Homo sapiens: one gene and its partners. The protein of the gene in region 2 binds, or shares a complex with, the protein of the main gene of each other region. Each region holds a gene or a part of one and is shown on either strand. Other genes may lie near its edges.

The links.
Region 1: PIGP (region 2) and PIGH share a complex: the UniProt entries of both Homo sapiens proteins name them as parts of the glycosylphosphatidylinositol-N-acetylglucosaminyltransferase (GPI-GnT) complex.
Region 3: PIGP (region 2) and PIGQ share a complex: the UniProt entries of both Homo sapiens proteins name them as parts of the glycosylphosphatidylinositol-N-acetylglucosaminyltransferase (GPI-GnT) complex.

What each region holds. Positions count from the first base shown.
Region 1 is NC_000014.9:67,590,138-67,593,796, forward strand, and holds part of PIGH (phosphatidylinositol N-acetylglucosaminyltransferase subunit H), read right to left. Parts: coding exon 3,606-3,659; intron 2,582-3,605; coding exon 2,498-2,581; intron 2,300-2,497; coding exon of another isoform or gene 2,178-2,299; intron 36-2,177; coding exon 1-35. UniProt on the Homo sapiens protein: Part of the glycosylphosphatidylinositol-N-acetylglucosaminyltransferase (GPI-GnT) complex that catalyzes the transfer of N-acetylglucosamine from UDP-N-acetylglucosamine to phosphatidylinositol and participates in the first step of GPI biosynthesis.
Region 2 is NC_000021.9:37,067,321-37,070,078, forward strand, and holds part of PIGP (phosphatidylinositol N-acetylglucosaminyltransferase subunit P), read right to left. Parts: intron 2,305-2,758; coding exon 2,232-2,304; intron 61-2,231; coding exon 1-60. UniProt on the Homo sapiens protein: Part of the glycosylphosphatidylinositol-N-acetylglucosaminyltransferase (GPI-GnT) complex that catalyzes the transfer of N-acetylglucosamine from UDP-N-acetylglucosamine to phosphatidylinositol and participates in the first step of GPI biosynthesis.
Region 3 is NC_000016.10:582,130-584,609, reverse strand, and holds the end of PIGQ (phosphatidylinositol N-acetylglucosaminyltransferase subunit Q), read right to left. Parts: intron 2,363-2,480; coding exon 2,301-2,362; intron 1,728-2,300; coding exon 1,575-1,727; coding exon of another isoform or gene 976-1,574; 3' UTR 501-975; downstream 1-500. UniProt on the Homo sapiens protein: Part of the glycosylphosphatidylinositol-N-acetylglucosaminyltransferase (GPI-GnT) complex that catalyzes the transfer of N-acetylglucosamine from UDP-N-acetylglucosamine to phosphatidylinositol and participates in the first step of GPI biosynthesis.

The DNA of each region.
Region 1 (3,659 bases), on a different chromosome or scaffold from region 2:
ACTTCAATCAAGCAGTCCAGCCGGGGCTTGGCACTCTGAATTCCAAAGGGGAGAAATGCGGAGTCAAGGTGAGAATATAAGGGAGTGCAGTGGTGCTGCATCCACTTGCAAATTTTTTTTTTTTTTTTTTTTTGAGACAGAGTTTTGCTCTGTTGCCCAGGCTGGAGTGCAGTGGCGCAATCTCGGCTCACTGCAACCTCCGCCTCCCAGGTTCAAGTGATTCTCCTGCTTCAGCCTCCCGAGTAGCTGGGATTACAGGTGCTCGCCACCACGCCCAGTGGCACAATCTCGGCTCACTGAAACCTCTGCATCCCGGGTTCAAATGATTCTTGTGCCTCAGCCTCCCAAGTAGCTAGGACTACAGGCACGAACCACCATGCCCAACTAATTTTTGTATTTTTAGTAGAGACAGGGTTTCACCATGTTGGCCAGGCTGCTCTTGAACTCCTGGCCTTAAGTGATCTGCCCACCTCGGCTTCCCAAAGTGCTGGGATTACAGGCTTGAGCCATGGTGCCGGGACCACATGCAACTTCAATCTCTCACCCACATCAAGGGGTATAAATGACACAGCAGTGAGCTCATGGAGTTAAGAAGTTTAGGCCTCAGCACACCTTGCTGGAAAGAGTCCCAGCTAGGCTTACAGCACAGCTTGTGAACTATGCGAGGTGGGAGATCAAATGATAGCTTTTTAATCTGTCTAAATTTCATGAACTCCATCTCTAAGAATAAGCAAGAGGAAAAACAAAATGGACCCTTGAGAAATGTCACAAGTTGTAAAACAGCCCTCAAACACAAGAAGTGCAGTTTAATATGTAAATATTGAAAAATGTTTTACACAATGAAATGTAATAACCAAAATTAAAAGAAAAGCCACAGAATGGAAAAAATATATGTGAAAGTATATTTAATAAAAGTGCACTACCTAAAATATATAAAGAATTGTTAAAAATATATAAAAATAGATACAAATACATAATATTCAGATTCTACTTGACTAATAGAGAAGATAGGTAGTTTAAAGTAAGAGGAAATACTGATAGGTAATACAAGGAAATATGAAAAGCCTATCATTTAAAGAGATACAAATTTAATGCCTTTACCTACATATTAAGCTAAAAAAGCTAAATCCACTATTAGCCAGGATGGTAGAAAAAGAAGTACAAAATCCCCAAAGTATGATAAAGTTGTCCAATCTCTGGAGCCCGATCTTAAACACTAGAAATCTATAAAACTATTCATAAGCTTTAATAAAATAATTTTGAATTACAATGCAAAATAATTTTTGGCTTATCTTAAATCCTTTGTGAAAAAGGTCAGTGAGGCAGGGTTAACTGTATACATAAATACATGCATAAATACCTACCTCTAAATTTATTATTTTGTAATTTATTATGTTTGTATAATTTTTGTTTTTTGAGATGGGGTCTCTTGTCACCCAGGCTGAATACAGTGCCATGATCAAAGCTCACTGCAGCCTTGACCTCCTGGGCTCAAGCAATCCTCCCACCTCAGCTTCCCCAGTAGCTGGGACCACAGATGTGCACCACCATGCTCAGCTAATTTTGGTATTTTTTGTAGAGATGGGGGTTTTACCATGTTGCCCAGGCTGGTCTCGAACTCCTGAGCTCAAGTGATCTGCCTGCCTCAGCCTCCCCCACAGTGTTGGGATTACAGGCATGAGCCACTGCACCAGCTGATAAGTGTTTTTTTTTTTTTGTAAGAGCAAAACAAAAAAACCCAGGCATGATTTTAAAAGCTGGCAAGAGTGGCTAAATAAACTGATATTTCAATATATTATACAATTATTTAAAATAATAAATATAATGGCCTTTGTAGGATACATACATATTAAATTATTTACAAAGCAAGACACACAATAGTGTACAATGTAAGATCAATTACCTCTATCTAAAAAAAGTGTACAGTAGTAGACTGACAGAGTCAAAGTAGATGAATGGTGATTTATAGGCAGAAGTTGCTATATATTTGATTGTGTTCTTTAAAATGTGCATGAGGCCAGGTATGCTGGCTCATGCTTGTAATCCCAACACTTTGGGAGGCTGAGGCAGGAGAATTGCTTGAACTCAGGAGTTCAAGATCAGCCTAGGCAACATGGCAAGACCTCATCTCTACTAAAAATAAAAAAAAAAAATTAGCCAGGCGAGATGGTGCACACCTGTAGTCCCAAGTTCTCAGGAGGCTGAGGCAGGAGGATTTCTTGAGCCTGGGAGGTGGAGGCTGCAATGAGTGGTGATTGTCACTGCACTCCAGCCTAGGTGACAAAGTGAGACTCTGTCTCTAAAATAAAATAAAATGTGCATGAATATTTTTAAGGAATACATTTGCCTCAGAGAGGAACTTCTCAAATAACTGAAATCCTAATTATCACTCAAAACAGCTGTCAGGTATCTTCCAATACTCTGACAAAAGGAATTTACATTCCTAATGAAAAGGTTGAGGAGTAATTGGAGAATGGTAAAAGTATTCTATGCTCACCTGGAAGACGGGTACTACTTGGGATATCCCATGTGGTTCCACTGGATCTTTCAATAAGATGCAGAGGTAGTAAATCACCTTCTGCTGTAAGAAAATAAATCAAATAGCAAAGTCTAAGTGAAACTCATTTTGCATTCTTTTTTTCTTTTTCCTTTATTTATTTATTTTTGAGACAGAGTCTCTCTCTGTTGCCCAAGCTGCAGTGCAGTGGCGCAATCTCGGCTCACTGCAACCTCTACCTCCCAGGTTCAAGCGATTCTCCTGCCTCAGCCTCCCAAGTAGCTGGGATTACAGGCGCTCGCCACCATGCCCGGCTAATTTTTTGTATTTTTAGTAGAGATGGGGTTTCACCATGTTGGTCAGGCTGGTCTGGAACTCCCGACCTTAGGTGATCCGCCTGCCTTGGCCTCCCAAAGTGCTGGGATTACAGGCGTGAGCCACCACACCTGGCCACATTCTATTTTTCTAAGGGAAGGCTCAACACTTTTTCACAAATGTTTAAGTAGTAGAACACTTGATAGCTTTTGAAGTGGAAGAAAAGTATATTCTCATTCTTTAAATGAAAAAAGACAGGGCCAGGCGTAGTGGCTCAAACCTGTAAACTGAACACTTGGGGAGGCCACAGCAGGAGGATGGCTTGAGCCCAGGAATTCAAGACCAGCCTAGGCAACATAGTGAGACTGCATCTCTGCAAAACATAGAAAAAACGAGCCAAGCATGGTGGTGCATGCCTGTAGTCCCAGCTACTCAGGAGGCTGAGGTGGGAGAATGGCTTGAGCCTGGGAAGTTGAGGCTGCAGTGAGCTGTGATCGAGCCACTGCACTCCAGCCTGGGCAACAGAGTGAGACCCTGTCTCAAAAAAAAAAAAAGAAAAAAGATAGAAAGAGAAGGAAAAAATGCCAGTGATAATTTTGAAGTTGGTCTTGAAGATAAAGTTGAAATGCTAATTCCCTATCCATGAAAACCTGCTGCATCTCTTTAAAAATAAAGAGATTTACCTTTTAAATATAAGTCTCACTTTTACGGTTTTAGTTTAAATCTGGGAACATCCCATGGGCTGGCTACCTCCTCCAGAGAGGCCTGTAATACTTACCTTTTAAATACTTACCATGTAAATGGCCTCATTGATGACAATATCCTTGACCTTGCCCATTTCTATGAA
Region 2 (2,758 bases):
AGCACGTAGCCAATTACTATAGCAATAAGGAGGTAGACAGGTAATGCAACTGCCCAATATCTGCCAAAGAGAATATTAAAGTACATAATAGACACTTTAAAAAAGTTGTAATTCTCAAGAGTCGGTCACAAAGCCAACATGTTTTTTAAATTTAAATTTTATAAAGTAATATGTGTACATAAGAGACAAATAGTTCCACAAGGCTTACAGTGAAAAACTGCAGTCCTCTATCCCACCATCCCAACCCTGGGGTCTCACTCTCCAAAAAGAAATGCTTTGAGCACTTGAGCTGTCTTCTGGTACTTACCTCCTCATTGCTACAAAACATGCTCATATTACTATTTCCTCATTTTTTTCCATTACAGACATTTTCTCTAGGCTTCCTAATATGGAGATAAGGAATTAACCTCCTCCTATCCTCTTCTATACTTACATTGCAATTTCTCATTATAGCAGCAGGTTTTAGAAATAATTGTACCTACATAAACAATTTTGCAACTGAGGATCTTAGTACATTATTATTATATATTTTCTTGTACAACTTTTTTTTTTCTGGAATAATTACATCTTTTTGTCTGTTCACTTGGTTTCCCAGGAATCCACCAATACCAGAGCCTCAAATTCTCTGATAGGACTCTATTATGCCTCTCAGTATCATTATGTACATGGAGTGCTATTTTTCATTGAGTGTTTTTTTTTTCTTTTTGAGAAAGCATTTCCCTCTGTCACCCAGGCTGGAGTGCAACGGCATGATCACAGATCACTAGCCTCAATCTGCTGAGCTCACTTCAGCCCTGCAAGTAGCTGGGACTATAGGCACACACCACCACACCTGGCTAATTTTTAATTTTTTTGTAGAAATGGGGTCTTGAGATGTTGGCCAGATGTTTTTTTTTTTTTAAATGATTTGTTCTCTATTATTTTCTCTTTCTGGAACTTCTAATAGTTTGAATTTTTAACGATTATACTTTCTTATATTTTCATTTTTTTTTGTTCTAACTTCTAGAGATTACCTTTGTTTTATTTTCCAGTCTTTCAATTAAAATTTTAATTTTGGTTATCATGTTTACAATTTCCAAATACAGTAATTTCCTGTTTGCATAGCATTCTGTTCTTGTTTCATAGTTATAATTGTTTCTTACCTCTGAGAATTTTATGTTATTTAAATTTTTTTTTCTGTTTCCTGCATTATCTCTATTTCCTTCAAATTCCCTTTAATTTTCTGCTTTTTCATTTCATGCTAGAGGCTTTCTTTTAATGTCTGGTAACTTAGAGTAGTCCATTCATATTTAAAAATGAAGTGCTAACAAGTGAGTTGGAAGCACTATGTGTATGTGGGCAGGGATGGTCAACTGGTGAGCCTCACTCTGAGAGACTTGGCCACTTCACTGGGGTCCTCTAAATGTCAGAAATTATAGATCCTTTCTCTCGGGCTGGTCAGCTTCCTCAGGAAAGAACTATCTATCTTTTTCTGTGAGCAGTAGGGTGATATAAGCCTCGAAGCCCCAAGAGGGAAGATGGAGCAGGAGGTAAATCTTCTCATTAAGCCATGTAGATTTTCACTTACTTCCCTGTTTTCAGTAAGATGCCGCATTCCCACACTCAGACTTAGTGGCCCCCATGCTAGAGACTCTTACTTAACCTTGCCAGAGAGTAAAACTCCTGTTTTCTGCAGGGGAGGGCAGGGCAGGCCTCCCAGCTTTGAGGGCTGAGGGAGATTTGAAGGCTGAAGACTTCATATGGTCTTTAAACATGTTTTCAGTTCAACCCAGAATTAAAGAGCTACCTGGTACCCCAATGTCTGAGCTATTCTGGAGTTCTAAGGCACAAATATTCTTGCTGGCTTCCCTACTTCAGCAACGTGAAAATCACAGAAACAAAGGCAGTTACCTCTCACCTATCACAATCCACTTTCCAAAATGTGGTTGATATCTCTTTTCTGCTATACTATTGTTTCTGTGGTTTGTATCTTCAGTTTTTTTTTTTTTTCCTGTAGGGTCATTTTAACAAGATTTTTGGAGGAAATGGATGGAGATAAACATGTGTGTTCATGCTACCATCTTTAATTAGAGATGTATCAATAGCGATCTTTAAAAAGCTTTCAATTTCTATATGGCTATTCATGAATTTTAAGAGAACAAATATTTAAGATTTGGGTAGGTTTAAGAAATGATATGACTCCTCAAAACAGCATTAATTATATCCTCATTTAAGAAATATATTAAACTTACTTTTGAGGCCAATAGGTTAAACCTAAAGAGTTTAGCCAAGATTCAGGAATAAAGGCCCACACGAGGTAAAGTACTGTAGAAAAGAAAAAGAAAAAAAAGAGGAAGAGAAGTCAGTAAGACATACATCTAATCTATCAATCTATTAAGATTCAGATAAAACAGAAAAGCTCTTTTGAAGTGTCCCTGATTAACTCAGAAATGATTTTTTCCTCCTTTCAGTTCTTCTAGCTCGTTTGCACAATTCTTATAATACTTATAATTACTGTATTAGTCTTTTTTTTTAATATCTTAACTCACATTATATTTTAAGCAATTCAAGGATACAAATCATGGCTTAGCAATTGTTGTAATCCTTATTACCTAGCAGTTTGCTTTAGGTACAGTAAGTGTTCAATACTTCATCCCCACAAGGTTGAAGTAATTATAGACATTTAATTGCTCAAAGGGAAATTTACCTACCCTAGTTCTCATCCACCACATACTGAGCTTCTGCCCTATCTCCCAGAGTACAATGTTATTTCCCTCAA
Region 3 (2,480 bases), on a different chromosome or scaffold from region 2:
GCCTGGAAGTCCAGGTTGGATGGAGGCCTGTACACTTCGGGCTGGGAACGGGCTGTGGGGCCCGCCAGCTGGGCCCCCAGCACTGCAGGCGACAGAGACCATTCTTAGCAGCTGTGGCAGTCGCAGGCTGTACTGGGCCAGGACCCACGAGGGGCCCACCCCACATGGAGTCCACAGATTCAGAGCAGGAGCTGCTCGCCCCACCCCTGGAGGCCTACACCCCTGCACCATCTATGTCGAGGCAAGGCCACGACCCCAGGGTGGGCGGCCCCCAGGGTGGGCGGCCCGGGTTCACCTGCCTACACCAAAGTCCTCAAGGGCCCAGGGCCTGTGAGCCCGTCCCATCAGCCGTCGTCAGGGCCTCCAGCAGGAGGCCGGTGTAGACTCTGCAGGGCAGACCCACGTGAGGCAGCCCAAGTCCCTCGAGTAGCGTCCACACACCCCCCCCCCAGAGCTTCCCTGGACCCGCGCTGCACATGGACCCGGGACCGAGCCTGCGCTCCAGACACGGGGCAGGTTTTATTGTCACAGCAGCTGACGGCTTCCCCGGTGCTGGGTTGCCAGGGAGTCCCAGGCAGTCCTGGTGCTGCTGAGATGGGCGCTGCCTCCTCCCACCCACAGCGCGTCATCCCCTCACCAGCCGGCACCTGCAGGCTCCCCTCCTGAAGCGGACTCGGGCTCACAGGGAACACCCGCACCCAGACCGTGCCGTCTGGCAGGCACTTTCGGCCTCAGTGCCACGGCCCCCTCCCCAGGCCACTCACACTCCTGGGGGGCCACAGAGGTGTCTGCACAGCAGGGCTTCCTCCTTCCCTGGGAGGCCCATGAAGGGAGACAGATTTGGCCGCAGGACCTGCTGCTACGGGGCACCGTGGACGAATAGGTACGGCTGGGTCAGTGGGCGGGCCCTTGACACTGAGGCTGCTCCCGCCCCCACAGCAGCCTGGCGATGCTCACAGCCTGCTGATGGTTTCTTCACAAAGCGACCTCTCCAGGGAACATCCGCAAATAAACCCCGTGTGGTTCAGGGAGTGAGGGCCCGGGCCCGCTGGGGACGGGGGTCAGCGACTGCTTCAATCCCCCAGATGCAGGGTGCTGTTCGGCTGAGGGAGCTAGAGGGTGCCTGGGACTGGGGGGTTCATCCTGGCAAGGTCCCTCCACCCCCACAGCCAGGGCAGAGCCACTGGGGAGCCCCCAGGGAGACCAGCCCTCCACCTGGGGCTGCTGTGGTGGACGGACCCTCTGGACCTGGGTACACAGGGTGGGCATGGGGCAGTGCTCTGGACACCTGGGGTTGCTGTGCTCGCCACCATGGTGACCGCAGCAGGTGGGAAGCGGGTCCCAAGGCAGGCAGTGCCAGTGATGGAGTGCGGCCAGCCTGGCTGGCCACCCCCACATCTGCTCACTCCCAATGACCTCCAAGCCCAAGGTGTGATAGCAGGGCCTGCCGTGTTCAGGAGCACACAGCAGCGTCCACAAAGCACAGGACATGCGCCAGCTGAGCTGGTGCCACCCTGGCAGAGCAGATGGCTGGCTGTGGCCGTGTGGTGGTGCCAGGCGAGCCAGCAGTTCCCTCAGTCCTGCTTGTCCCCTCTCTGCCTCCAGGGGTAGATGAGCTCCCCAAGGAACAGCTTGCGGCACAGGGCGCCCCAGGAGTGCTTGGGGTGGCAGCCACAGCTGGGGAGGCGGTAGGTGTGCACCACGCGGCTGTAGGGCAGTGGGTTTATCTGGAAGGACAAGGGCAGCGGTCAGTGGGGTGGTCTGAGCTCCAACCCCGTCTGCAGAGAGAGGGTGGGGGCGGGCAGTTGTGAGGCAGGGCCAGTGCTGTCTCAGACATTCCCTTGCCTGTGGGAGAAGCCAGTCCCAGTTCCCAAGGAGGCAAGTGAGCCTGCAGCCAGAAGGGAGCGCTGGGGGGAGGCAGAAGCTGCATCTCCCCTCGGGGCTGCCCAACTCTGAGGGGCCGTGCCACAGGGACGCACACCCCACCCCAGGACTCACTCAGTCGGTTCTGTTCCACCCAGAACTTGAGCCCTGTGGGGCCCAGGGCAGCCCCAGCCAGCCAAGGGCGCCTCCGACACAGGGCAGAATGGGCCCCATCCACAGGACCACACCAGTGTCCTCAGGCCCTGGGGGTAAGGGGGAGGGGGTCCCGCGTGGGCCTTCCCCCTCAGCTCCACTGGGCCCTCCCTGTACCTCATCGCAGGCTGGCGTGGTGCCACCCAGACACTACACCCAGCTGACCCCACCGTCCCAGAACAGGGGCAGCAGCGTAGGGGCGTCCTGGCCACAAGGGGCCTCACCTGCATCAGGAGGCGGAGGGGCCTGCCGGCCTCGTGCCGGAGGACACGGAACTTCACGCCAGCTGCAAGGATAGCAAGCGGCTGACGAGGGGACGCGTGGGGGCTGGCCCCACACATGAGCAGAGGCTGCAGGTACCTTCCTCTCTGAGGGGCACCCGGGTGCTGCTGGCCGTGGCCACC